Linked DNA regions of Homo sapiens: all the other regions are linked to region 1. Evidence: fine-mapped expression QTL. A gene starts in region 1. Each other region holds a variant in brackets. All regions are shown on one strand. Distances are from middle to middle.

Region 1 (7,387 bases):
TCAAAACCTTGGGGTCTTCTTAGAGTCCTCTATCTCCTTCAAGCCCTATAATAACTAGTTAGAACTCAAATTCCACAGATTCTTCCTTCAACATTTCTCATTGCATTCACTCAAGCAGTTTTTATTGTGTACCTACTGATGCCAATTTCAGGAGATTCTGGTGGTACAACTGGGAGGGTAGGATGTGGAGATGTATACAGCAACAGCTACTAAACTAGTCCACTAAATACATGAGTGGTTGAGAAATAAGTGCGTACTACAAAGATTCTGACGTATGAGATGCTGTCTGGCTGGGTTAATCAGGAAACCCTTGGGGAGGGGTAGGGAACTCAAGCTGGGCCTTGACTCTCAGGTCTAACTTCGATTACACAGAGCTAGTGAAGGGAATTGGGAAGGAAAGCACTCAGGGAACTACGAATAAAGGTGGCTGCCTGGAATTAAACGTCCAGGGAGCAGTGAGAAAAAAAGGCTGGGGCCAGGTAGTGGCAGGCTTTGAAGGCTTGCCCAAGAGGCCTTTAACCCTTAGGCTGCCAGGTTATTTCCCTCCCATCGCCTGCAGCTTCTTTACAGCTGACACTTTCACCAGGAACCCAGGTACAAAACAAAGGTGGCAGCAGCTGCTTTTGTGATCAAAGGGTGCTCCTTCTGCATTTAAATTTGCAGGCTGCTACTCTGAGTGACTGAACAGGAAGCTAGCTGGTCCCTTTAGCGCTAACAAAGCTTGATTTAGGCTGAAAGATTAGAAAGCACATCTTATTCTATAAACGCTTCAACACTCTGTTATCCTTCAACAACCCTAACTAGGGCTGTGATCTAAGATTGACAATATTAACTTAATCCTTGTCAAATTTGTTTTCATTTTATGGCTCCCTGGCTCAAGGATCTACAACAACTCTTAGTACAGATAACAGGTCATTCAAATTTCTCTGCCTGGAATCCAAAGTTATACACAATCCAACCCTACCAAACCTTTTCAACTTTTATCTGTTACTATTCCTTTGTACCAACTTTCTTTTCTTTTTGTTTTTTTGAGACGGAGTCTCGCTCTGTTGCCCAGGCTGGAGTGCAGGGGCGCGATCTCCGCTCACGGCAGCCTCTGCCTCCCAGGCTCAAGCGATTCTCCAGCCTCAGCCTCCTGAGTAGCTGGGATTACAGGCATGCACCACCATGCCTGGCTAATTTTTGTATTTTCAGTAGAGCGGGGTTTCACCATGTTGGCCAGGCTGGTCTCAAACTCCTGGGCTCAAGCAATCCGCCTACCTTGTTCTCTCAAAGTGTTGGCATTACAGGCGTGAGCCACTGTGCCCACCACCAACTTTCTTTTCTTAGGAGGGCTAAATTACAACAGGGCTAGTGTTACAGTCTTAAATCAGTTGAGTTGAATTCAAATTAAGCAACAGTTTAGACCATTTTTTTTCAGAAAGAAACAAAAATATAAATTTTGCAAAAACGTTTGTAAGAATTTAGCAGTCCCAGTGGCTCATGCCTGTAATCCCAGCACTTCGGGAAGCTGAGATGGGAGGATGGCTTCAGTCCTGGAGTTAGAGACCAACCTAGGCAACATGGTGAAACCTCGTCACTACAATACAAAAATTAGCCGAGCGCAGTGGCACACTCCCTGTTGTCCCAGCTACTTCGGGAGGCTTGAGGCAGGAGGATTGCTTGAGCATAGGTCGAGGCTACAGTGAGCCATGATTTCACCACTGCACTCCAGCCTGGCAGACAGAGAGGGACCTTGTCTCAAAAAAAAAAAAAAAAAAAGAGAAGAATTTGCAGTCCTTATTCAAGATAAGTCCTTATTCAAGATAAGACATTCAAGATGTCTTTTCAAAATATGTTCTGAATCAAAAAAAAATCCAAAATTATTGTTTTCGTATCGCATAAATGTGAAAGACTCATCACAAATGACACTGATATAGTAATGTTCTATATCTTCGTAGGGGGTTGGATTGTATAGGTGTATGCATTAGTCAAAATCAGTGAACGTACACTTAAAGGTTTATATATTCCATTTTACATCAAAATAAACCGTCAACAAACTCTAGTCAATGACATGCATGCCAAAGTATTTAAAGGAAAGTGTACAGGTATCTGCAATTTAAATGGATGGATAGCTATATGATAAAGCAAGTAATATTAAAATGTTAATGGTAGGATAGATCCTAAGTGATGTGCTCCTTATAAAATTCTTTATACTTGGCTGGATATTCGAAAATTTTCATAATAAAATATGAGGGAAAATGACATTGGTAAGACACTGTACTTGTAAATTGTAAACACTGATAACACACTACATTTCATAAAATTGTAAGATGTTAAGTTTGGTGGCAGCACCAGGTATTTGCTCCTTGATGCTTCCAAACTACGCTGCACACACCTCTTACAGAATGGTTGCCTCTCCCAGCATACTATAAGTTCCTGGTGGGCACAGATCTAACCTAATTTGTATTTATATTCCTATTGCTTTGCATCATGTTTGGGGAATAATATGTATTCAACAATAGTGGCATGATTGAATTAAAGTGGAATACTGCTAACGAACAAAGTATTATATTTCTAGCAGATTCACTATTCTTTTCTTACATATTCTAAAGGTTAATACGCTCAATATCCAAGAGAAATGTGTCCTTACTTCTCTCCAAGCATACGAAATTTCCAAAGTTTTTTTAAAAAAACTACTCATTAGATAATTTTATATTGTTACTTAAACCCAAGATCTGAAGGCCTCCTAACATTCAATAACTTTTTAGTAGTTTTTTTTTTTTCCTAGAAGAGCAAAGTCTCAGAACTCCACGGAAGCCTGGAAATCGTTTTATTCTAATTTTAGATAAGCTGTCTGAACTAAGAGATCTCTGAACTGGTCAAAAGCAGGAAAGTGGGGGTCTGGGAAGAAGACAAAAACAAACGCCACATAAAACGTCATGGAGCAAACTAATCAAGAACTTTAGCAAGAAACGGAGAGAAAGTCTTAAGGAGGACACCCAGAACATCTCCAGCTCCTCCTGGCCCGTCTCCTCAACTCCTCTTAATTCCAGCCAGTCAGAGCGCGGGGCCATCTGCCACTCCCAGGATGCCACGCGACGGGAGCGGACGCTGCGAGGATGCACCTCCACACGTCAACCTCCCACAAACAGCATGGCTTCGTGGCGTGAGCACCCGGTTCGGACCTGAACGCCTGGGTCCGAGTCCCACCTCCCCCTCCTGCCTGGTCTGCAGCCCTGCGCAAGTCCTCTTGCCCTCGCTGAGCCTCAGTTTCCTCATCTGTAAAATGTAATGATTCCCTATAATTGGCTACAGGGAGATGAGAAGTGTAAATGGTTTTAAGGAAGACACAGGCAACTCTCTAACTTGTTACGGCTCTGAACCTCGCGGTGCTCACTAACCAGCCTTGAGACCAATCTCTCAAAGTCACCCCGCTCCTCCCTTCCCGCCCGGCGCCTGTACTGAGGCCGCTCCCTCCTGTTGGCCCCCATGCGGAAGGCGCGCGGCGCCGTCTGCCGTACCTGCAGCCACCTGGTCAGCGGGGCCCTCTTGCTGACCCACGACGAAGTCGTGCACGAGGCCCCATAGGGCACCCATAGGCGCCGCCGCCTCCACAGCCGCGGCAGCGGCCATAACGCGAACTAGAGACCGTGGGAGGGGATATGGGCGGTGGCTCGAGACGGGCTCTCCGCGCATGCGCCTCCCGAGCCAATCTCCGGGGAAGCGCAAGGGGGCGGGGCGCCGGGGTCACGTGCCTGCCGGCTTCTGCCTAGGCAGTTCCAGGGAGGGGCGGGGCCTGAAATGGGGCGGTGGCACCGAGAGGGAAGGCGGCTGCTGGGCACGCAGCCGGAGGCGATTGAGGGCGAATAATTCCCAGCCCGGCTCCCCGGGAGACGGGCTGCGGGGCGGGCACCTGGCTGGGTGGGGAGAGGGGCGGTACGCACCACGGGGGAAGCCAATGAGAAAATCAGGCCCAGCCCTAGGGGGCGGTGCTGTCGGTCACATGCGCACCTGGGGCGGGTGGTGGCGGCGGCGCGGGCACCGCGAGCCGGCGGAAGGGAGAGGGGCCGGCCTGGGGCGGGGTTAGGCAGGTGAGTGACAGGCTCCAGGGGGCCGGCCCCTGCCTGGTGCCCCGAGCGAGCCGGGAGTAGCTGCGGCGGTGCCCGCCCCCTCTCTCCGCCCCTCCAGCGGAGCTGGTCTCCGGCCGGGCACCGTCGCGGGCCCCCCTGGCCCGGCCACCTGGGACCGTGCTGGGGAGTCTGCCACTTCCCTCTCTCCCCTGGCCCGCAAAGTTTTGGCGGAGCCATCGCTGGGGCTGAGCGCGCCCCCGGGGGGAGATCGGGGAGCGCCCGATGCCGGGCGGCCGGAGCCATTGACCCGGGACGCCGCCGTCCGCTGAGCAGCCGACCACCCCGCCGCCTCCGGTGCATGGGGACTGGCTGAGGAGCCAGCATGGGCAACTGCGTGGGGAGACAGCGCCGGGAGAGGCCGGCAGCCCCGGGACACCCCCGCAAGCGAGCAGGTAACGATGGGGAAGGGAGCAGGGCCTCGGGCATCCCGCCAGTTGTCCCCCTCCTCGCCCGAGTCCTGGGCTTACCGATGGACTCCCCACTGGTGCTGGCGCTTGGGTTTCCCCGATGGGCTGCTCCGCAGCCAGAGGGGGCCGCTCCCCAGCGCCGGGCGGCCGGGGGAGCTGAGTTGGGGCAACTGCGAGCACTGAGCCGGCTGCGCGACCAACTCTCTCCAACTGGGTAGCTCCTGGTGGGGGTGGGGGCAGGAAATGTTTGCAGACCGCAGCGGGGCCGACGGATCGGGAGGAGGCCGGGGGCGAGGGCGCCGCTGGCCTGGCAGCTCCGGCCGGGGTCGGACGCCGGCCCGTCGGGGCACGGCGCGGGCAGCCAGGCGTCCCCAGAACTCGGAGCGAGCGAGGCGAGAACAGTCGCTCCTTCCAAAGACTGTGTCATTATCGAGCTGCAGATCGTGTCTGCGGGAATCCGACTTGCAAAGCAGCGCAGGACTCTGGGAAAGAAATCTTTATTTTTCCCGCAGGGGTTTTTAGAGCCTCTCGGCCGTCTGGGAGTCTATAAAAGATGGGGTGCGGGGTGAGAGTCACCCTTGGGATTGTTGGGATCCTTCCCAGCTTTGGGAGTGAGATCGCTCGCTGGTGATCCTCCAGGCCCGCGCAACGCTTTCTCACTTTCATGGTACACCCCGCCTGCCCTGGCATTTCGCCCCGGGAAGAGGTCTGTCGGTCATTTTTCTGGGTCTTACACTCACTTCCTTCTTTGAGGGTGTTGCAAGGACCCGCTGGGAATAATATCGTAGACTTGAGAGCTCAAACTTGTCTGGATTCCAGATGGACCCATCTCCTACTCTGTGTCAAAGCCCAGATCCTGAGAGGTTGAACACCTTGTCCAAAGTCACACAGCTAGTTAGGAGCTCACCTGGGGCTAGAACTCAGCCTCCTCTCCCACCCCATTGCCACATATCCCCTTATGTAAGAGGAGCCACAGGCAGAGTTGTTAATGAAGTGGAAACTCTAGTTGGAGTTTCCTGTCTCCCTTGACACCGAAGGTGTGTTGCTTGGGTTGCGGAAACTGGGAAGGAAGATGGGGGAACCAGGGGAAGCAGGGAAGGATGTCTGCATGGTGGACAGGATGACTTGTGGAGGCAGAAATGTGTTTTTATGGGAAGGATGCAGTAAAACTTATTGAAATTCTCTTGTCTGAAGGTAACTCTGGCCATTCTTCTGGCTGAGGAGAGATGACTCTCAAAACCAAGGGCTGGCTTGCTTTCATTCATTCATTTGTTCAACAAATATGTGTTCAGGCCCCATAATTGATTTTGCAGCATTTTTTGCTGTTGACAACTCTCTCCTACGAGACATTCCCCCCCTTCCTTTCTTGGCATCAGACTGTCTTGGTTTTCCTTTCTGAACACCCCTTTCCACCATCACCTTCTAGCTTGGGGGCACGCTGGTGCTTAAGTTTGACATTCTGTTTTTTCTCTCATTACACTCTCTCCCAGAGAAATCTTGTTCAGTCCCACAACTCTTTGTCCATTGGGAATACCCCTATGCTTAAACTTCAGCTCTTCTCTCTTGAACCCCAGAACCCCATCTCTAGATGCCCACTGGACACTGTGATATAGATATTCCCAGATTTAACACCTCCAAAACCAGGCTCTGCATCGCTCCCTGTCCACCAGCTTTCCTTCTTTACTCTTATGTTCTTCCAGCTGCCTAACTTTAGGCTGTGAAGAGCTCTTTCTCTCATGACTTTCTCTGCTTCCTTGTCGCCTGCCTCTCAGCCAGTCATTGGGGTCTGCTGGGTCTTCCTTCCGCGGGACTTGCAAACCTGCCCCTTGCCACCCTACTTTGTACCCTTCTCACCTCAAGTCAACCCTTGTCTCAGGCTGAAGTGAGGTACCCCCCAAAGGCAACTTCATCTTCAGTCATCATTCAGTCCTACACACAGTTGTCCCCACAGAAGACATTTGTTAAATTAACTTCTTCCAGATTTTATAGTTCTGTGTTCAGAATGTTTCTGTACTTGGCCAGGCGTGGTGGCTCATGCCTGTAATCCCAGCACTTTGGGAGGCCAAGGCAGGTGGATCACCTGAGATCAGGAGTTCGAGACCAGCCTGGCCAACATGGCAAAACCCTGTCTCTACTAAAAATACAAAACTTAGCCAGGCATGGTGGTGGCAGGCGCCTGTAATCCCAGCTACTCAGGAGGCTGAGGCAGGGAGATTGCTTGAACTGGAAGTTTCGCAGAGGTTGTAGTGAGCTGAGATTGCGCCACTGCACTCCAGCCTGGGTGACAGAGCGAGACTCTGTCTCAAAAAAAAACAAAACAACAGCAACAACAACAACAAAACACCTTTCTGCATTTTCCCACTCCTACAAGTACTTTAACTTTCAAGGCTGTTCAAGTGTGGGCCAGTCCTTTCTTTTAAGTCCTGATTTCTTTCCCTTCTCTGACATTAAGACCACCAGTGTTTGCTCGTGCCATTTCCTTCTTATCGAGAGTCTTTCATCCTTTGGGTTCATTTCAAGTGCCGTGCCTTGTTTGAAGCACCTTGCCTGACAAGTCTGCCATTTCCCCCTCCCTCCGCACCCCACCACACACACCCCGTGGAAGTGATTGCTCCTTCTGAGAACTCCTGCAGACACATTATCTATGCCACTTACTTAACAATTATGTACTCTGTATTATTAATCATGTCTTTGATGTTTACAGTCTTTTATCAGCAACTACATTGCAAGCCTTGAAGACCTGGGTTCTGTCTTATCCTTGTAGTATATGTCTCTCTCACGCACACACACACATTCAGCACTTAACACAATGAGTTGTACAGAAGTAGCACTCAGTATTTGTTGATTTTAGAAAGCAAACTCAACTTC
Region 2 (7,387 bases), 190 kb before region 1:
TGCCCTGTACCATCTTGGGACTCTTCACAGAGTCTCCATCAGCAAGAAGGCTCCCACCAGATGCAGCCCCTTGACCTTGAACTTCTCAGCCTCCATAATTGTAAGAAATAAATTTATTTTCTTTATAAATTACCCGGTTTCAGGAACTCTGCTATAAGCAACAGAGAACAAACTAAGACCCTAACCCAGGCCTCAGGTCAGAAGGCCACAGGGGCTGGTGGGAAGTTTCAAAGCAGTAACACATTTGTGATAGTCAAGAGCAAGCCAGTACATTGTGAGCCCACTACGTTGGATGTTGCCTCCATGGTCTTGTGAACTGATGCACAGATCCCTTTTTCCTACCACTGTAACCCATTTTCATGGAGTTTGTTTTGGTATGAAGAGAAATTTTGCACATAAAGTCTCTATAGTGATTAGGAAGTAGGATGAAGGTCAGGAAAGGCACTAATATTTCCCCACCTCTCTGTCCTCTAGATATGGAGGCTTCAGAGTCAGCTTCAAAGATTCCCCCATTCAAAATCAGAAAGTAAGGCCAGGCATGGTGGTTCACACCTGTAATCCCAGCACTTTGGGAGGCCGAGGCAGGTGGATCACTTGAGCTCAGGAGTTCAAGACCAGCCTGGGCAACATGGCAAACCCTGTCTCTACAAAAAACAGAATTTTTATTTATTTATTTCATTTTTCTTTTTTCTTTTTTGAGACAGAGTCTTGCTCTGTCACTCAGGCTGGAGTGCAGTGGCACGATCTCAGTTCACTGCAACTTCCACCTCCTGGGTTCAAGCAATTCTCATGCCTCAGTCTCCTGAGTAGCTGAGATTACAGGAGTGCACCACCACACCCAGCTAATTTTTTGTATTTTTAGTAGAGATGGGGCTTCACCGGCCTGGCGTGGTGGCTCACACCTGTAATCCCAGTGAGTCGGGCAGATCACAAGGTCAGGAGATCGAGACCATCCTGGCTAACACAGTGAAACCCCATCTCTACTAAAAAATACAAAAAATTAGCTGGGCATGGTGGCGGGCACCTGTAGTCCCAGCTACTCGGGAGGCTGAGGCAGGAGAATGGCATGAACCCGGGAGGTGGAGCTTGCAGTGAGCTGAGATGGCGCCACTGCATTCCAGCCTGGGCAACAGAACAAGACTTTGTCTCAAAAAAAAAAAAAAAGAGATGGGGTTTCACCATGTGGCCCAGGCTGGTTTTGAACTCCTGACCTCAGGCAATCTGCCCGCCTCAGGCAATCAGTCATGAGCCATTGCGCTGGGCCTAATTTATGTGGGTGTTTTTTTTTTTGAGATGGAGTCTCGCTCTGTTGCCCAGGCTGGAGTGCAGTGGCGAGATCTCAGCTCACTGCAACCTCCGCCTCCCAAGTTCAAAGCGATTCTCCTGCCTCAGCCTCCCAAGTAGCTGGGACTACAGGCGCCCACCACCACACCGGCTAATTTTTTGTATTTTTAGTAGAGACGGAGTTTCACCATGTTAGCCAGGATGGTCTCGATCTCCTGACCTCGTGATCTGCCAGCCTCGGCCTCCCAAAGTGTTGGGATTACAGGCATGAGCCAACACCCCTGGCCTAATTTTTGTATTTTTAATGGAGACGGGGTTTCACCATGTTGGCCAGGCTGGTTTCGAACTCTTGAGCTCAGGTGATCTGCCCACCTCGGCCTCCCAAAGTGCTGGGATTACAGGCGGGAGCCGCTACGTCCAGCCAAAAAAAGTGCAAAACCTAGCTGGGTGCTATGGCTTGCACCTGCAGTACCAGCTACTCTCAAGGCTGAGGCAGGAGAATTGCTTGAGCCGTGGAGGTGGAGGTTTTAGTGAGCTGAGATCACACCATTGCACTCCAGCCTGGGTGACAGGAGTGAAACCCTGTCTAAAAAAAAAAAAAAAAAAAAAAAATCAGAAATAAAGGAAATTGTCCTTCAGCTCCTTAGGCTTACACATCCCCATCCAGGGATCTAGTCATTCCCATCCATAGGACTTACCTTCTTTCAGAGTTATCAAAAGAGCTGCTTTTGTTCATTCACTTACACTTTAATGTGAATTAAATACAAAACTACCTCTTCTGAAATATGTGAATTTATTTGTTTATTTATTTATTTATTTTGAGATGGAGTCTCACTCTGTCCCCAAGGCTGGAGTGCAGTAGCACAATCTTGGCTCACTGCAACCTCCACCTCCTGGGCTCAAGGGATCCTCCTGCCTCAGCCTCCCAAGTAGCTGAGATTACAGGCACTTGCCACCATGCCTGGCTAATTTTTATATTTTTAGTAGAGATGGAGTTTCACCATGTTGGTCAGGCTGGTCTCAAACTCCTGACCTCGGGTGATCCACCAGCCTCAGCCTCCCAAAGTGTTGGGATTACAGGCGTGAGCCACCACCCCCGGCCTGGAATAAGGACCGCTTCCAATTGTGAAAGAAAATGCTTGTTGCCCAGTTAACATAATTCCACATAATCATTTTGATTAGGAAACCTAAACAACTTCTGGAGAACTCAAGAACTCTGTCCCAGGCTGCCATTTCACATTTGCTGCATTTCTAGATGTGTTTATATGATTGCTTGAGTGGTGTTGTCTTCTACTGGAGTGTAGCTTCATGACTTAAGAATCTTTCGGCCAGGCACAGTGGCTCCCGCCTGTAATCCCAGGACTTTGGGGGGCCAAGGTGGGCAGATCACCTGAGGTCAGGAGTTAGAAACCAGCCTGACCAATGTGCCATCTCTACTAAATATACAAAAATTAGCCGGGCGTGGTGGCATGAGCCTGGAATCCCAGCTACCTGAGAAGCTGAGACAGGAGAATTGCTTGAACCCGGGAGGCAGAGGTGGTGGTGAGCTGAGATCGCGCCATTGTACTCCAGCCTGGGCAACAAGAGCGAAACTTCATCTCAAAAAAAAAAAAAGGATCTTTTTTATTTTAAGGCTGGTCAAGTGACACATTTGGCTTTACTTAGCCAACTATTTGTTGAATGAATAAAGGAACAAATGAATCAAACCAAAGATTCCTGGCCGGGCGCGGTGGTTCATGCCTGTAATCCCAGCACTTTGGGAGGCTGATGCGGGCAGATCACAAGGTCAGGAGTTCAAGACCAGCCTGGCCAATATGGTGAAACCCCATATCTACTAAAAATACAATTTGCCAGGCGTAGTGGCAGGTGCCTGTAGTTCCAGCTACTTGGGAGGGTGAGGCAGGAGAATTGCATGAACCCGGGAGGCAGAGGTTGCAGTGAGCCGAGATCACACCACTGCACTCCAGCCTGGGCTACAGAA[C/T]CAGATTCTGTCTCAAAAAAAAAAAAAAAATGCATAGAAACAATGAGATTATTTAGATCTTATGGAAAAAACACATCCTGCCTATATTGGACATAGGATTTTGTTCTGATGCATGCAGCATCTCTGTAGAGGTTCTCTGCTCCTTTATGCTCCTTTATCCTCAGTCCATGTGTTTTAAGTGGCATTGATCCCATTTCTGGCTACAGGAGTGGGCAAGCGACACAGGCCTGGCAAATCAGAGGAACCTAACCTCTAGATTCATGGATCTGACAGTCTAGACCAGCCCAACTCACTATAGAAAGGAGGTATGTGGTAAGGGCTCACTTGGAGGAACCAAAGAGAGTGGGAAGAAGGAGAGTGGGAGGAACCACTGACTCTTGGTGAGAGCAGAGATAGCTGCATGAGGAGGTTTGTAGCTGGACTAAGATTTAGATGGGTGGAATTCAGGGAGTGCATTCTCTACACAAAGAGCAGGAACAAACATGGGGTGATAGGAACATGTAAGATGTTTTTGAAAGCTGGCAAGGGCCCAGTTGACACGAACAAAAGGTTTATGTGGAGGTGGAGGACAAGATAAAGTTGGAGGAGTGGACCAGGGCAAGCCCCCCTGAGAGTTCTGGACACTGTGTTAAGGAGTGGAAGAGTTTACTCCAGAGGCCATGTGGACCTGTTCAGAGGGGAGGCCGTGGGTAACCTGAGCAGGGTTGGGCATTAGGAAGTTGATCTGTCAGAAGAGTGGATTAAAGGGAAAGAGGCCGGGGTTCTGACCCAAGATGCATGAACCTGGCCAAAAAAACATTAAGGGCATCGGGCAGTAGGACCGAAATAGAACCACCAGCTGAGGCACTGAAGAAAGAATCAGTGTGCCTTGAGGAACATAATAAGGCAGAGCTAAAAGACCAGACTCCAGAGGCTGGGTTATGGCATCTGGGTAGTGGTTTGAGAAGGGCAGGCTTTGGCATCTATCAAAACTGAGTTTGAATCCTGGGCCTGGCACTAGAAATATGTGTAATTCTGGGCAAGTTTACTTATTTCTGGGCCTTGGTTTTCTTATCCATGAAAAGGAATAATAATACCAAATTCAGAGGTTTTTGGAAGACTAACTGAAATAATATCCTTAAAGCAATTTTCAGGGTACCAGGAATAAAATAAATATCCAATGTAGCTAGTGGGTACAAAGTTTCTTCTAGGAGTGATGCAAATGTTCTAAAATTAGATTATGGTTACACAACTCTGTAAATATCTAAAAACCATTCAGTTGTATACTTTTTTCTGTGTGTGAGATGGTGTCTCGCTCTGTTGCCCATGATGGAGTGCAGTGGCGCAATCTCAGCTCACTGCAACCTCCGCCTCCCGGGTTCAAGTGATTCTCCTGTCTCACCCTCCCGAGTAGCTGGGACTACAGGCATGCACCACCATGCCCGGCTAATTTTTGTATTTTTAGAAATGTTTGTTTTTTGTGTTTTTTGTGTTTTTTTGAGAGAGTCTCGCTCTGTCGCCCAAACTGGAGTGCAGTGGTACGATCTCAGCTCACTACAACCTCTGCCTCCCGGGTTCAAGCAATTCTCCTGCCTCAGCCTACTGAGTAGCTGGGATTACAGGTGCACACCACCACGCCTGGCTAATTTTTGCATTTTTAGTACAGATGGGGTTTCACCATGTGGGTCAGGCTGGTCTCGAACTCCTGACCTCGTGATCCACCTGCCTCGGCCTCCCAAAGTGCTGGGATTACAGGCGTGAGTCACCACGCCCAGCCAAAAAAAGTTTGTTTTTTTTTTTGTTCAAATGATCCTTTATTGAAATATTTTGTTTTGTGCTTCTTCACTAGCTGGGCATATTCCACAACACCACTGTTGATGTCATCTGTGATGTCATGAGGGTGGCGACCATCAACATTATGGCCCACAGATTAGGGAGTCCCCAGGATTTTTTTTTTTTTTTTTTTTTTTTGAGACGGAGTCTTGCTCTGTCACCCAGGCTGGAGTGCAGTGGTGCGATCTGGGCTCACTGCAAGCTCCGCCTCCCCAGGTTCATGCCATTCTCCTGCCTCAGCCTCCCTTCAGCCTCCCCAGCAGCTGGGACTACAGGTGCAAGCCGCTACACCCGGCTAATTTTTTTGTATTTTTAGTAGAGATGGGGTTTCACCATGTTAGCCAGGATGGTCTCAATCTCCTGACCTCGTGATCCGCCCGCCTCGGCCTCCCAAAGTGCTGGGATTACAGGCGTGAGTCACCGTGCCCGTCCCCCAGGATTTCTTCAATGGTTCCAGAGAGTTCTCTGGCTAAAGATTGGTGACGCCTCTGTCAAACAATGTTGATGATCTCATCAAAAGTGATATTCCCACTGTGTTTAATGTGTTTCTGTTTCTTCTGTCTCTTGGTGGTTCCTTGAGAACTTTGATGATCAGGGCAGAGGCAGAAGGCACCACCTCAATCTGGGCCCGTCTGTTCTGAATGTTCAGTTTCACTGTAATCCCCAGGCCTTTCCAGTCACCTGTTGCCTTGGCAATGGCATCACCAACCTTTTTTAGAGACAGAACCAGGGGGCTGATCTTGGGGGCCAGTGAAGAAGTGGCACCAACTTCATCCCCGGTGCACCTCAGGTATACGACTTTAATCTTGTTGGGGTCGAACTTCGGCGGCATGGTGGAGGCGGCTGGTATTGGATGAACCTGGATTCAGGACGACCAAAGAAAGTTGCACCTTGGCCTCTTCTGAGCCAAAAGCTGAAAGCAAAAAATGTGTTTTTAAAAACAAACAAACAGGGCCAGGCACGGTGGCTCACGCCTGTAATCCCAGCACTTTGGGAGGCCAAGGCAGGCAGATCACCTGAGGTCAAGTGTTGAAGACCAGCCTGGCCAATATGATGAAACCTCATCTCTACTAAAAATACAAAAAGTTAGCTGGGTGTGGTGGTGCACCTGTGGGAGAATGGCTGGAACCTGGGAGGCGGAGGTTGCAGTGAGCCGAGATCGGGCCACTGAACTCCAGCCTGGGCAATGAGAGCAAAAACTCCATCTCAAAAAAAAAAGATCCAGAGGTAGGCAGTCCAGGACCATGTCTGGGGCCTTCAAAAGATCCAGGCAACAAAATAAAAGAAAAAGAGACAGGCTTGCCCCCTTCCTCACAGGGTTACTTTCCAAAGGTATCACATAATATGGCCCATTTGGCCAGGCGCGGTGGCTCACGCTTGTAATCCCAGCACTTTGGGAGGCCGAGGCAGGCAGATAATCTGAAGTCAGGAGTTAGAGACCAGCCTGACCAATATGGAGAAACCCCGTCTCTATTAAAAATACAAAATTAGCCGGTCATGGTGGCAGCATGCCTGTAATCCTAGCTACTTGGGAGGCTGAGGCAGGAGAATCGCTTGAACCCGGGAGGCAGAGGTTGTGGAGAGCCGAGATTGAGCCATTGCACTCCAGCCTGGGCAACAAGAGCGAAACTCTGTCTCAAAAAATATATATATATATTTATATACATACATAGCCCACTTATATTTCATTGACCAGAACTTAATCACATGGCCCCATTTGGCTGCAAGAGAAGATGACAAATGACCCCTTGTCTTCCCATCTCTTTGTTCTTTTGCAGGGGATAGAGATGGGTTCTTATGGTTCTGGTACAGCTACAATTTGGGGTTTATTAAAGAGGAGAGTGGTTATTGGGAGGCAAACAGCAGCCTCTGCTATAGCTACTACTTGTGTAAAATGGAGGCAGACTATAAATAAATAAACTATCTTTGAAAAGACACACAACACATGTAGTATAGTTTGCCTTTTGACTTTTGAACTATGTGGCTGTAGTGTCTACTCAAATAAGTAAAACTAGAATTAAAAAAAAATACTGCAGGCTAGCAACATGGTGAGACTTTGTCTCTACAAAAAATACAAAAATTATCCAGGCATGGTGGTGAGTGCCTATAGTCCCAGCTACTGGTGGGAGGATCACTGGAGCCTGGGAGGTTGAGGCTGCAGTGAGCCATGACTTAGCCACTGCATTCCAGCCTGGGTGACAGAGTGAGACTGGTCTTAAAAAAAAAATACTGAATGATGATACCCAACCATGTGTCTCCTGACTTACAGCTCTGTCGATACCACAGCTGTCCCAGGCATCCATATGGACA
Region 3 (7,387 bases), 23 kb before region 1:
CATAGTAAAAGAAGGGATTTACTATTATTATTATTATTTTTTTTTGAGACAGAGTCTCACTCTGTCACCCATGCTGGATTGCAGTGGCTTGATCCTAGCTCAGTGCAACCTCCACCTCCTAGGTTCAAGTGATTCTCATGTCTCAACCTCCCAAGTAGCTGGGGTTACAGGCGCACCAACACACCTGGCTAATTTTTATATATTTTTTGTAGACATGGGGTTTCATCATGTTGGCCAGGCTGGTCTGGAACTCCTGACCTCGAATGATCCACCCACCTCAGCCTCCCGAAGTGCTGGGATTACAGGCGTAAGCCACCGAACCTGGCCTGGTTTCTGTTTTCATGACTGGACTTTGATAGAAAAGATAAAACTGTGGAATTCTCTTATAAAGTAACAAAAAGACAGAGGTACAAAATAGAAAACAAAAGGTCAGAAAATCAGAGGTCCAACAGAAGATTAATGAGAGTTCCAAAATGAAGGAACAGAGAAAAGAGAGAGGAAGAAATCATCAATTAAAGAATTCAAGAAAAATTTACAGGACTAATGGACACGGGTTACCAGATTGACAGGGCCTACTAAGTACCCAACACAGTACATGAAATAGACCAATACTAAGGCACATCACTGTGAAGTTTCAATGTATCGGGGTGAACCAAACATCAGTTTATAGAGAGGAAGAAAAAAATGGTAAATACAAAAGTTTATGAAACAGAAGAAATTCAGACTTCTCCACAGCAAATGAAAACTAGATAACTAGGCTTATTTATTTATTTGAGATGGAGTTTTGCTCTTGTTACACAAGCTGGAGTGCAATGGCACGATCTTGGCTCACTGCAGCCTCTGCCTCCAGGATTCAAGCGATTCTCCTGCCTGTCTCCCGAGTGGCTGGGATTACAGGCTCACGCCACCATGCCCGGCTAATTTTTTTGTATTTTTAGTAGAAATGGGGTTTCACCATGTTAGCCAGGCTGGTCTTGAACTCCTGACCTCAGGTGATCCGCCTGCCTTGGCCTTTCGAAGTGTTGAGATTACAGGCATGAGCCACCACGCCCAGCCAATAACTAGATTTAAATGTAGCAATGCCTTCAAAATCTTAGGAGAAAATAATTTCCATTTTTTTTTTGTTTTTGTTTTTGGTTTTTTGGTGACTGAGTCTGGCTCTGTCTTCCAGGCTGGAGTGCAGAGGCATGATCTTGGCTCAATGCAACCTCTGCCTCCCCAGCCCAAGCCATCCTCCCACCTCCACCTCCCGAGTAGCAGGGGCTACAGACTCGACCACCACGCCCAGTTAATTTTTGTATTTCTTATAGACAAGGTTTTGCCATGGTGCCCGGGCTGGTCTTGAACTCCTGAGCTCAAGCAATCCACCTGCCTCAGCCTCCCAAAGTAGCGGGATTACAAGCGTCAGTTACTGCACCTGGCCTCTTTCTCAGGTGCAATCATAGTGCACTACAGCCTCAAACTCCTGGCCTCAAGTGATTGTTCTGCCTCAGCCTCACAAGTAGCTGGGACTGCAGACATGTGCAACTGCATCCAGCTAGAATTCTCTTTTTATTTATTTTTTTTTTTGAGATGGAGTTTTACTCTTGTTGCCTAAGCTGGAGTGCAATGGCGTGATCTCGGCTCACTGTAACCTCCGCCTCCCAGGTTCAAGCAATTCTCCTGCCTCAGCCTCCCAAGTAGCTGAGATTACAGGCGCCTGCTACCACGCCTAGCTAATTTTTGTATTTCTAGTAGAGACGGGATTCCACCATGTTGGTCAGGCTAGTCTCGAACTCCTGACCTCAAGTGATCCACCCGCCTCGGCCTCTTAAAGTGCTTAGATTACAGGTGTGAGCCACTGCGCCCGGCCTAGAATTTCTATTCTTGAATTACATGCCCATAATGTCAAAAATGAGAGACAAGATTGAAGGCATTTAAGGGTTACAAATCTAAAAAATTCTCACTTCTTCATACATTCTCTCAGGAAAATACTAAAGGAAGTACACCATCAAACTGAGGGGGTAAACCACAAAATGAGGAATATGTGAACTCAGGAAACAGGAGATCTGATCCAAGAAAAAGGATAAGGGAATCTAGGATGACGGTGAAGGAAGAACCAATATCTACTCTGCATTAGGAGTAAAAATCAACCTGTTGACATTGTTTGGCTAAGAATGGTTTTAACATTTTTAATGTTTGAAACAAACCAAAAGAATATCTTGTGACAAGTGAAAATTATATGAAATTCAAAGTTTAGTGTTGATAACAAAAGTTCTATTGGGATATAGCTACTGTAGCTGTTCCTGTGTCTAAGGCTGTTTTTGTGCAGTAACAGCAGAGTTGAGGAGACCATATGACCCACAAAGCTACTGTCTGGCCTTTTATAGAAAAAGTTGGCCAGGCATGGTGGCTTATGCCTGTAATCCCAACACTTTGGGAAGTCGAGGCAGGTGGATGGCTTGAGCCCAGGAATTCAAGACCAGCCTGGGCAACATGGCAAAATCCTGTCTCTATAGAAAAATACAACAATTAGTCGGGAGTAGTGTCATGTGCCTATGGTTCCAGCTACTCGGGAGGCAGGGGTGGGAGGATCACCAGAGTACCAGAGTCCAGAGAGGTGGAGGCTGCAGTGAGCTGTGATGGTGCCACTACACTCCAGCCTGCCTCAAAAAAAAAAAAAAAAAAGGGAAAGAAAAAGTTTGCCAACCTCTTCTTAGAGTGAGCATATAAGCATAGTGAAGAAACTGAACCTTAAGCTCATCAGATCCACTATGATGGCACACAATACTGATTTGTGGCTGGATATGTGGCTCACACGTGTAATCCCAGCACTTTGGGAGGCCGAGGCAGGTAGATCAGTTGAGGTGAGGAGTTCGAGACCAACCTGGACAACATGGCAAAACCCCATCTCTACTAAAAAATATAAAAAAAAAATTAGTCAGGCATGGTGGCACGTACTGTAATCCCAGCTATTCAGGTGGCTGAGGCACAACAATCACTCGAACCCCGGAGGCAGGGGTTGCAGTGAGCAAGGATTGTGTTACTGCACTCCAGCCTGGGCAACAGAGTGAGACCCTGTCTGAAAAACAAAACAAAACAGAACAGAACCAACAACAATAAAAACCCTGATTTGTAAGACAATAAAGAGTATTTGTAACTCAAATAGTTACACTAAAGCCAAGTGTCTCTGTTTTAATTAATATCTTGATAAGAGCTTTCTGCTTCTGATAGACTGCAGTGCAGAACAACATACAAAAATCTGCTTGAATGAGAGAAATCTTCCTAATATTATCTGTAAGTTTATTTTGCCTAGATTATCTCTGTGAAAATAAACAGCTGTGAACAGTGATTGTTTCTAATGGGAAAATGGACAGTAGCAGTAAAGGGGTATGAAAGAAGTTTAATTATCTACCCTTTAAATGCTGAATCATGCTCATTGTATAACCTTTCAAAAAAATGGATGAAATACTGTTCCTCTCCCCCAAATTATAAATGCACATATTCTTTGACCTAGCGATTTCTTTTAGGAATTTATTCTATCATTATATTCATATGTATGAAAGTTGTAGCACTGCTCATAACAGCAAAAGATTAGCAACAATCCACAGAGGACTAGTGAAATTATTCATTATTTCCGGCCAAAGGAATATTATGCAGCCATAAAGAATGAAAGAGCTAACTTATATACTGACGTGGAACACTCTCCAAGACATAGTGTTCAGTGAAAAAAGCAAAGTACAGGAGA[AGT/A]GTGTGTGTGTGTGTGTGTACATGCCCGCATGTGCACACATTGATTTTAGGGGGGTGGTGGTAAAAGCATTTGCTTACATATAGATGAAAAAGCTCTGTAAAGATACAAACATAACTGATAACTTGGTTGATTATGGAGAAAAAAAGATGGTAGGGAGATTTCTCACCCTTTTGGACTTTGAATCATGTGAATGAATTATCTTTTCAAAACCAACACAAAACACAAAATAAAACAAAGTAAAGGCTGGGCATGGTGGCCCACGCCTGTAATCCCAGCACTTTGGGAGGCCGAGGCAGTTGGATCACGAAGTCAGGGGTTCAATATCAGCCTGGTCAAGATGGTGAAACCCCATTTCTACTAAAAATACAAAAAAAATTAGCCGGGCATGGTGGCGGGCGCCTGTAATCCCAGCTACTTGGGAGGCCGAGGCAGAGAATTGCTTGAACCCAGGAGGCAGAGGTTGCAGTGAGTTGAGATCGCACCACTGCACTCCAGCCTGGGAGACAGAGCGAGACTCCATCTCAAAAAAGCAAAAACCAAACCAAAACAAACAAAAAAGAAACACACACACCAAAAAAACCAAAGTAAAAACAGAAGAATGTGGGAGCTAAACCAGGATCTTTCAAGATTTCAAGGGTATAGGGTTAGAATAAGAATTCTGATTATGAAAGAGATAAAAAGATTCATTTCAGGAGACAGGTGGTCCCCAGTAACATAATGTCAACTGAAATAAGCTGGTAAGAAATTCCCTACAGCAAAGATGGTGGTGTCATTATAAAGGCAGTGAGAGTCAATATGCTGTTTGGCATGCTGCAATAGAATGCCTTTTATTTCTTTCAAACCACTAATGCTTGCAGCACACACACCCACACGGTGATGAAACTCTTGAGTATTTGGCAGTAGAAGGGAACTCAACTGCAGAATGGGAGGAAGGCCCAAGAGGGTCAGAGCAAATACCTTCTGTACACTGTGCACAATTGTGCCTTCTTTGTTTTGTCACTTTGTTTCTATAGCCTGAGATGCCCTGTCCAACTCCAGAATCATATCTTCTGCATCCCTCACAAACCAGCTGAAATCCTATCTTAACTGTGAAGTCAGTTCCTGCCTACTCTAGCTCACACTGAACTTTTGTCTTCTCTGAACAGCTATAGTACTACTCATTTTCCTACCTAATCTCCTATTGTTACTTAAATGTTTCAGCCTTCAAGGGCAGGGACAGTGTTTTGCAATCCTGTAGCCTTCAGCACTAAATACAGTGTTAAGGAGCTTAAGAATTCCCCCCAATACATGCTGCTTTGAATCATTCCTCATATGTCAAATGCTTTTCCATTTCCTAGTTTATTAAAATATAAAATAATGAGGGCGGGGATGTCTATTTTGGTGACCTGTACCCTCAGTGCCCAGAACAGGGCTTGGCACATAGCAGACACTCAATAAATATATGATCAAACAATGAAGGTGCTACTTACAGGGGTAAAATCGATAGGGAAATAACAGGATGTCACTTCAAACAACTCCTCCACAAAGGGTCCTGTGGCAACAGAGAAAAAATGAGGTTGGTTTATCAGCTTCACTCATCTGATAAAGCTCCAATGAGCTAATCATGGCTACCACGATATACCCAGGCTATAGTCCCTGGAGATGAGGTCATGGACGATGCGGAAGGCCACCAGAAGATTACGGGGATCCTTTTCCCCATCCATCACCTGGATGAAGCCAAAGGTGAAGTCAGCTCCTAGGCTCTTTAGCTCTGGGAAGGAGAGAATAAGGTTACTATACTGTCCCACAGCACAGAAAGTGTGGGCTTTCTCCTAGCCTGTGTTCTCCCTCTGCTATCATTGCCTCCCCTTTCTCTTCAGGGCTGACCCTTTTTCCATTCCAAGAAAGTACTCAGTGAAGAGATGTGCAACAATATACACATTGCTGTGGAGGCAAGAATTTAAAACACTGGCTCAAACAAACTCTACCCTTTCTTTACTTCACTGGGAGGGAGCAGACCCCCTCTTTCCCTTTATCATTCTCTCTCAGGATACCAGCTCTTCTATATAACCCCAGGTAAAATGAGTCCTACTAATAGGGGAAAAAGTAGGATGTGCTTGCTTTTGACATTTCCCAGAAAGCTCTGTCTCTTACCTTCTTCCCGGGTTCGCATAAAATTGGTGATGATATTGTAGACTGTGTGTCGGTCCACCTGTGGCAGGGACTTGGGGGTGGGGGAGAAAGAAGTGAAGAAAATGCTCAAAGAATACCTCAGCTGACACAGCTAGTTCCTGCTTCATAATCTCTAAGTGAACAGTGCTCTTTATACCAGCATAAGATCAATCTAAGAGAAACTACAGAGAAAGGGTATGGATATTGACTCAGCAGCACAGCAGTGGTGCCAATAATTCAAACCTGCCTGACAGAGGGATGCCTTACTTTCTGTAGGTATAAGAGGACACAGGTCAGATCTAATGGCATGCACCCCTTTCCTTGTCCAATAACAAAGATGAGCATATAAACATACTGAAGAAGAGCATAAAAACATTCACAAGATCCAAAAGAATTCAGAACTTAGAAGGCAATAATTTTTGCTATTGAATCCCAGTTATGTCAAGGGGTAGAGACAGAGGAGAATACCAACATGACTGTTATCCCTCACCTGTACATGCACTTCCTGGAAGATGGCTTTAAGCACAGAAACAGCCAGCCCTGGGGGCAGGGCCACACACAGGCTCTGGGGGAGAGGAGAAGGTACGTGAATACCGAAGGAATTGCAGCATGGCCTCCAAGACACAACCCTACGACAGGCCTAATTAGCTACTGTAAGAATCACAGCATCCTGGTTGAGGAAGAAGCACTAATAGTGAGACTCTTTCTCAAGCTGATGAGTTCTCTGCAGCTCTTTCCAGATGGCTCTGGTTTCCAGTCCCCCAAAGTACACTTTTACTCTCTAGAGGGAAAACGGAAGTAGAGCTGGTAACACTAATTTAGTCCCACACTTGGGCACCTGCTCCTCAGCATGTGAACCATCACACCCAAAGCGCAAGGAGAGAACTAGACAAGGGCTCCCTTGAACAAAGTTATGTAATGAAATGAAGGAAAACTCACAAGTGCCTTCAAACCCTGCAGGACAGATGGGATCACAAGATGATGGTCCTTCAGCCGGTTCTCATAGAACAGTATCAGGTGTACCACTGCACAAACCAGATTCAGCCATTAGTTGACATAGGCACGAGAAGGGCCCAAGAGCTTTGTTCCTTCCCTAAGTCTATAACAGTTGTTTCTGTTTGGGTTCCACTACAAATTTTCTCTTTCACCAAGAGACATGTCCTGTGCCTTCCCATTTGAAGGTAGACACCTGATCAGTCGGGAAAATAGGGGAACATTTCTTAATATCCATTCTCATACAGGTCCACAGTAAAACCCATTCTCAGCCCAAAACTGCCTTTCTACAGAACTAGAGTTCACAAATTTTTTCCTAAAGGGTCAGACAGTAAATATAGGCTTACAGGGTATGGTCTCTATCCCAACTACTCAACTCTGCTGTTTTAACAAAAAAGTAGCATAGACAACAGGGAAATAAATGAGTGTAGCTATGTTCCAATAAAAGTTTATAAAAACAGGTGTATGATGTGTTTTTTTTAATGTGTGACATAAATTATTTTTTCTGTGTAT
Region 4 (7,387 bases), 730 kb before region 1:
TCTTTGTATTTTCTGTAGAGACGGGGTTTCGCCATGATGGCCAAGCTGGTCTCAAACTCCTGACCTCAGGTGATCCACCCGCCTCAGCCTCCCAAAGTGCTGGGATTACAGGTGTGAGCCACTGGGATTACAGGAGGCAGCTGGCCTCCTATGCAGCTCATTTTGATGTATAATGGGTACATCTGAAGCAAGAGAGGGAGATGGAGTCCAAGCACCAGAGCTCACTCATCAGGGATTCTCATGGGGGCAGTTATGAGGGAAATGGGGAACATTCTCATGGGAGGAGAAAGGCTTATAAATTAAGCCGGAGAAGTTCATTAATAAATAGGCTGTCCACATTAACACCTGTCAATAAACAGGATTCGAAATGGCAGGTGAGGAGCTACAGAGGGTACTGCATCTGGAAACCTGGTGGGCAATGGCTCAGAGTCTGAGGGCTGAAATGAGGAAGTGCGGTATCAGCATGGAGCAAGCCAAGCCCACGGGAGCAGTGAAATGGGCCAATACTTAATCAGTATGCACCACAGTCTCACCATACAGTGAGACCCAGAAAGACATTTGTTCTGCTAGAATGCACATTTCTGTTATGGGAATCAGCTCACTGCAGAAGTAAAATTATAGCCATCATCAGGGAAGGAAGAAGCGCTCAGCTCAGCTGCTACACTAATTGCATGAGCCCTTTCAGCTGTATTTTAGGAAAATGGCAATGAGCACACACACCCAGGGCCCTTTTCCCCAGCTCTCAGCCAGGTTGCACTGCTTCCTGGATCCACCTGACTAGCACTCAGAGCCCACCACCATCTGCACTCTTTCAACACTTGCCAGACCAGCTCTAATTAAAGTGTTGCCAGCATGTTCCCACTCTATCACATTGAACATTTTAAATATCTACTGTGACAGTCTCCAGCCACACTGAGGCAGTCTGGGCAGTCCAAGTTATCTCCTTATGTGCAAACCACTATTTTTATTAGCATTCTGGTTACAGATTTCCACAGATTACGAGTGATCTGCCTCTAACCCTATTTTCCCCATAAGCCCTATTACTCTTACTGCTTGATTTTGCCGAACACAAGGTTCTTGAGGAATGCCTAAGTGTTGGGTGCTCCACGCACTGCCTTGGATCCTCTTGGCCACACCTCGATTCCTGCTATTATTTGAGGACACAATTCTATGCAGGCTTCAACTCACCTCCTGTGGCCCTGCCTCACCTCAAGCATGCGCTGTACATCTTCCCCTGACCCCGCAAGGTTCTCCGATGCTGTGGTGCGACGTGCCTGCGGGAGCACCCCGGCACTCGCTGATGTGAAACCTACAAGCGCAAGGGCGTTACAACCTTCAAGATGACCCTCTGTCAATGCTAGATGGGAGTTCATGGGGGAACACTTACAACTTCTGCCTTTCATCCATTGGGTGGTCAGTTTGAGGCACTATCTGTATACAACTCCTCAGAAGTTGCTGTTGGGATGGAAGCCCCCGTGCCCACTGCAGTCACCAATGTGACTGGCTTGGTTTTCCTTCTTCCCTGGTCAGTTTCCTTAGTCTCCACCCCTGCTCCCTGGTATCACCACTGTCCACAGTAAACTACACACACAGTTCCTTGTACCAGGCTTGTCTTCCCAGGGGAATAAGACAGCATGTGCTGCATTAAAATGGAAACACCTTTACTTACTTTTACGTACTGTTAATCAACAGTCACTGCCCAGTTCTTCCAAGTGGCCTTTATCATCCCTTCCCTGTAACTTCCTGGGTCCCCGTTTGAGACTCCCCCAAAGGAGTAATGTCACGCACAGCAGGAGGCTGCCAGCAGGGGGCTCCAACCCTACACCAACATCTGTTCTGAAGGTGCCTCAGCCGGACTAGTGATAAATGCTTTAGATTTCACCCTGGCAGTGAGATACAGGTAAAGATAAGTGCCTATTCAAGCCCTATGTTCCTTTTACTGGCGATTCATGTAAACCACACTCCTAATGAATTGAGGACTAATTTTTTTTTTGAAACAGGATCTCTCTGTTGCCCAGGCTGGAGTGCAGTGGCACAGTCATAGCTCACTGCAGCCTCAACCTTCCAGGCCCAGGTGATCCTCCTGCCTCAGCCTCCCAAAGGACTAAGATTACAGGCAGGCATCACCACGCCTGGCTAATTTTTTTTATTTTTCGAAGAAACAGGGTCTCACTATGTTGCCCAGGCTGGTCTCGAACTCCTGTACTCAAGCAATCCTCCTGCTTTGGCCTCCCAAAGTGCTGAGATTACAGGCCTGAGCCACTGAGCCCAGACACAACTGTTTTAAAAGGCAAGGTCAGTGGACTAGGTATTTGAACTATACATTCATGGCCAGACGCAGTGGCTCACTCCTGCAATCCTAGCACTTTGGGAGTCCGAGGCGGGCAGATCCCCTGAAGTCAGGAGTTTGAGACCAGCCTGGTCAACATGGTGAAACTCCGTCTCTACTAGAAATACAAAAATTAGCCAAGTGTGGTGGCACGTGCTTGTACTCCCAGCTACCTGGGAGGCTAAGGCAGGAGAATCACTAGAACCCAGGAGGTGGAGGCTGCAGTGGGACAAGATCACACCACTGAACTCCAGTCTGGGTGACAGAGCGAGACTCCATCTCAAAAAAATAAATCAAATCAAATCAAATGAACTATACATTCATTATGGATGACTCAAAAAGGTTGGGTAAATATTAAAAGTAATAAGAGACCTAGGAAGGAAATAAAGAATTATGAGGCCAAAGGCCGGGCGCCGTGGCTCACGCCTATAATCGCAGCACTTTCAGAGGCCGAGAAAGGCGGATCACGAGGTCAGAAGATTGAGACCATCCTGGCTAACACAGTGAAACCCTGTCTCTGCTAAAAATACAAAAAATTAGCCGGGCGTGGTGGCCGGCGCCTGTAGTCCCAGCTACTCGGGAGGCTGAGGCAGGAGAATGGCGTGAACCTGGAAGGCGGAGCTTGCAGTGAGCCGAGATGGCGCCACTGCACTCCAGCCTGGCGGACAGAGCGAGACTCCCGTCTCAAAAAAAAAAAAAAAAAAAAAAAAAGGCCGGGCGTGGTGGCTCACACCTGTAATCCCAGCACTTTGGGAGGCCGAGGCGGGCGGATCACGAGGTCAGGAGATTGACGCCATCCTGGCAAACATGGTGAAACCCCGTCTGTACTAAAAAATACAAAAAATTAGCAGGCTTGGTGGTGGGTGCCTGTAGTCCCAGCTACTTGGGAGGCTGAGGCAGGAGAATGGTGTGAACCCGCGAGGCAGAGCTTGCAGTAAGCAGAGATCAGGCCACTGCACTCCAGTCTGGGCGACAGAGCAAGACTCT[A/G]TCTCAAAAAACAAAACAAAACAAAACAAAACAAAACAAAAAAACACTATAGTGGTTCCTCAAAAATTTAAACAAAATTACCACATGATCCAGCAATTCTACTTCTGGATATACATACTAAAGAATTAAGAGCAAAGATTTGAACAGATATTTATACACCCATGTTCATAGCAGTATTATTCACAATAGCCGAAAGGTGAAAACAACTGAAATGTTCATCAACTGATGGATGAACAAACAAAATGTGTGATATACATACAGATATATATACAGTGTGATATACATACTCAAATGTTCATCAACTGATGAATGGATAAACAAAATGCGTGATATACATACAATGTAATATGAGTCAGCCTTTAAAAGGAAGGACATTCTGACACATGCTACAACATGGATGAACCATGGATGAGATACGCTAGGTGAAGTAAGCCAGATGCAAAAGGACAAACATTGCATGATTCCACTTATATGAGGTAACTAGAGTAATAAAATTCACAGAGACAGGAAGTGCAACAATGGTTACTAAGGACTGGGGTTGGGGGAAGAGAATCAGGAGTTATTGTTTAATGCAGCAGTCCTCAATCTTTTTGGCACCAGGGACTGGTTTTGTGGAAGACAATTTTTCCATGGACAGGTATGGGAGGGGAAGATATTTTTGGGATGATTCAAGGGCCTTACATTTACTGTGCACTTTATTTCTGTTATGATTACATTCTAATACATAATGAAATCATTATACAACTCACCATAATGTAGAATCCTTCGGAGCCCTGAGCTTGTTTCCCTGCAACTAGGCAGTCCCATCCGGAGGTGATGGGAGACAGTGACAGATCATCAGGCATTAGATTCTCATCAACAGTGGGCAACCTAGATCCCTCATATGTGCAGTTCACAGTAGAATTCATGCTTCTATGAGAATGTAATACCGCTGCTGATCTGACAGGAGGCGGAGCTCACGTGGTAACGCAAATGACTGGGAGCGGCTGTAAATACAGATGAAGGTTTGCTCCCTCACTCGTCACTCACCTCCTGCTGTGTGACGCGGTTCCTAACAGACCACGGACTGATACAGGTCTCTGTACCCTGGTTTAATGGGTACCGGGTTTCAGCTTGGGAAAATGAAATGTTCTGCAGATAGATGGATGTGATGGTTGCACAACAATGTGAATATATTTATGCTACAGAACTATACACTTTTAAAGGTTTTAAAATAAGTTTTATATGAAACTGACATGTTTTCAGAAAAAAATACATTTCATATTATGTGTAATTTACTACATTACATGAGTATAATAATAAAAACCTAAAACTCAACAGATGGTTGGGAGGCCTAGGCGGGTGAATCACTTGAGGCCAGGAGTTACAGACCAGCCTGGCCAACATGGTGAAACCCCATCTCTACTAAAACTATAAAAATTAGCCAGGTGTGGTAGTGCGTACCTGTAATCTCAGCTACTTGGGAGGCTGAGGCAGTAGAACTGCTTGAACCCAGGGGACGGAGGTTGCAGTCTGCAGAGATCACACCACTGCCCTCTAGCCTGGGAAGCAGAGTGAGACTCAGTCTCAGAAAACAAAAAAACAAAACAAAAACCCTCAACAGATGGGTTTATACTTTATTAGCTACAGTCAAATCAATCAGTGAATGGAGCAGGGGTCAGAAGAAAATTCCCAGAATGCAGCACAGAGGAACAGAAGTCACCCCAAAGAATAATATAGAATTTATGCTCTAGTCTCTGGCATTGGTTTTATGAGTCCTATTTTGGGGTTTCCCCTTTTATAGTAGAAGTTAGGCTTAATATGAGCTACCTTACATGCTCACCCATAGGAAAAAGAATGCCAGCTTTGACATAAGTATGCATATGCATTGTTCCATTTAATTTAATTAATTTAATTTCATTTCATTTATTTAATGATTCTAAGAGAGAGGAACCATGAATCCATTTTTGGGATGGATACTGAAGTCAAGTAGCTTACCCAAGGCCACACACCAAAAAGCCAAGATTCAACACAGGCTAATACAACTCCAAGCCTGCGTTCTTTCTAATACATCAGACTGTGCCTCAAGTGTTTGTTTATTCATTCATTCATTTAATAATTACTGTAAAAAATTAATTTAAAAATAATTATTGTGTATCTATTACAAGTTAAGACTAGGGGCCAGGCAAGGTAGCTCACGCCTGTAATCCCAGCACTTTGGGAGGCTAAAGCAGGCAGATTGCTTGAGCTCAGGAGTTCAAGACCACCCTGGCCAACATGGTGAAACCTTGTCTCTACTAAAAATACAAATAATAATAATAATAATAAGCTGGGCATGGTAGCATGCGCCTGTAATCCCAGCTACTCGGGAAGCTGAGGAAGGAGAATCACTTGAACCCGGGAGGCAAAGGTCACAGTGAGCCAAGATCACACCACTGCACTCCAACCCAGGTAACAGAGAGAGACTCTGTCTCAAAAAAAAATAATAAATAAAACAATAAAAAAAATCTTTTTCAATGGCTCCTCTTCTTCCCCAACTTATTGACACTGGTTTGGGATTAATATGTTTCCATTTCTTTTTTTTTTTTCATGCCCTCCAGACTGGAGTGCAGTGGCACGTTCATGGCTTACTGCCACCTTGACCTCCTGGGGCTCAGGTGATCCTCCCACCTCAGTCTCCTAAGTAGCTGAGACTACAGGTTCATACTACCATGCCCAGCTAATTTTTATATTTATTGTAGAGACAAGGTTTCACCATGTTGGTCTCAAACTCCTGGGCTCATTGATCTATCTACCTTGGCCTCCCCAGTATGCTGGGATTATAGGTGTGAGCCACTGCACCCAGCCAATAAGTTTCCGTTTTGTTGTTGTTTGAGATAGAGTTTCACTCTGTTGCCCCGACTGGAGTGCAGTGGCCCAATCTTAGCTCCCTGCAACCTCCGCCTCCGGGGTTCAAGTGATCCGCCCACCTCAGCCTCCCAAGTAGCACTTTGGGAGGTCAAGGCAGGCGTATAACCTGAAGTCAGAAGTTAGAGATCAGTCTGGCCAACATGGTGAAACCCCATCTCTACCAAAAATACAAAAAAATTAGCTGGATGTGGTGGCGGGTGCCTGTAATCCCAGCTACTCGGGAGGCTGAGGCAAGAGAATCATTTGAACCCAGGAGGCAACCCAGTTGCAGTGAGCCAAGATTGTGCCACTGTACTCCAGGCTGGGCAACAGAGCAAGAGTCCCTCTCAAAAAAAAAAAAAAGAAAAAAGAAAAAAGAAAGAAAGAAAGAGTGTGCTTATTGTGGGGCTAGCCAAGCTGGAGGATGAGAGATAATTCTCAAATCCACCTCATCAAGAATTTGGAGGGTAGGGTTTTTCATGGATAGCTCAGTGGGCAGGGGGCTAGAGAATGAGGAGTGCTGATTGATTGGGTCAGCGATGAAATCATAGGGGATGAAGCTGTCTTCTTGTGTTGAGTCAGTTCCTGGGTGGGGGTCACAAGACCAACTGAGCTAGTTTCTTGGTATGGGTTACTGGTCTAAGTGGAGCCAGCTGGTCCATCAGAACGTAAGGTCTGAAAAATACCTCAAACACCAATCTGATATTTTGCAATAGTGCTGTTGTCTATAGGAGCAACTGGGGAGGCTACAAACCTTGTGACCTCCAGCTACATGACTCCTGAACCATAATTCTAACCTTGTTAGTTTTACAAAGGAGGTTTCAATCCCTGAGCAAGGAGTGCATTAATTTTGGGAAGCACTTGTTGTCATCTTTGTTTTAAAGTTAAAGTATAAGCTAAATCCCTACCATAGTCAGTTTGGCCTACCCCCAAGAATGAACAATGACAGTTTGTGACGTTAGAAGCAAGATGGAGTCAGTGTTGCATTTCTCTCACTATCTTAATTTTTGCAAAGGCAGTTTCAATCTCACTGTATGCAAATTAAAAAAAAAAACTTTTTGTGTAATAAAGAAAGAGATGAAGAGAAGTGGTTCCCATGAAAACTGTTATTTTTGCCACACAAGTGTAAACTGAAAAGGTTTCTGCAGTTTGTAAGCCAGCACTGCTTAAAAAGACTGTTTCCTGGTTGGGTACAGTGGCTCA

Which allele goes with the higher level. Alleles are on the strand shown, and positions count from the first base shown. SD is a standard deviation of normalised expression in the study named. Not every link is listed here.
For the expression in monocytes of the gene that starts at base 3,653 in region 1, allele AGT in region 3 goes with a lower level than allele A (moderate effect, 0.46 SD a copy in Quach 2016).
As copies of A replace G in region 4, the expression in rectum of the gene that starts at base 3,653 in region 1 goes down (large effect, 2.0 SD a copy in CEDAR).

Evidence for each region.
Region 2: its variant is fine-mapped to the expression of MMS19 in monocytes after R848 (Quach 2016, PIP 0.95).
Region 3: its variant is fine-mapped to the expression of MMS19 in monocytes (Quach 2016, PIP 0.95).
Region 4: its variant is fine-mapped to the expression of MMS19 in rectum (CEDAR, PIP 0.95).

What each region holds. Positions count from the first base shown.
Region 1 is chr10:97,494,770-97,502,156 of GRCh38, forward strand. It overlaps MMS19 (MMS19 cytosolic iron-sulfur assembly component), which reads right to left and starts at 3,653. Exons shown (of 31, transcript NM_022362.5): 1 at 3,504-3,653. The coding sequence starts at 3,615. UBTD1 (ubiquitin domain containing 1) reads left to right here and starts at 4,155. Exons shown (of 3, transcript NM_024954.5): 1 at 4,155-4,504. The coding sequence starts at 4,435. RefSeq lists enhancers at 2,778-3,308, 2,985-3,034, 3,395-3,564 and silencers at 3,805-4,564, 4,575-4,774.
Region 2 is chr10:97,304,050-97,311,436 of GRCh38, forward strand. It overlaps the pseudogene RPL12P27. Among named protein-coding and RNA genes, the nearest start is that of FRAT1, 12 kb to the right of the region's middle. The variant C/T (reference allele first, on the strand shown) is at 3,266.
Region 3 is chr10:97,471,484-97,478,870 of GRCh38, forward strand. MMS19 (MMS19 cytosolic iron-sulfur assembly component) reads right to left here. Exons shown (of 31, transcript NM_022362.5): 4 at 6,821-6,906; 5 at 6,372-6,446; 6 at 5,864-5,933; 7 at 5,352-5,480; 8 at 5,200-5,261. Among named protein-coding and RNA genes, the nearest start is that of MMS19, 23 kb to the right of the region's middle. The variant AGT/A (reference allele first, on the strand shown) is at 3,728.
Region 4 is chr10:96,764,037-96,771,423 of GRCh38, forward strand. No RefSeq gene overlaps it. Among named protein-coding and RNA genes, the nearest start is that of PIK3AP1, 47 kb to the left of the region's middle. RefSeq lists a silencer at 1,850-1,939. The variant A/G (reference allele first, on the strand shown) is at 3,317.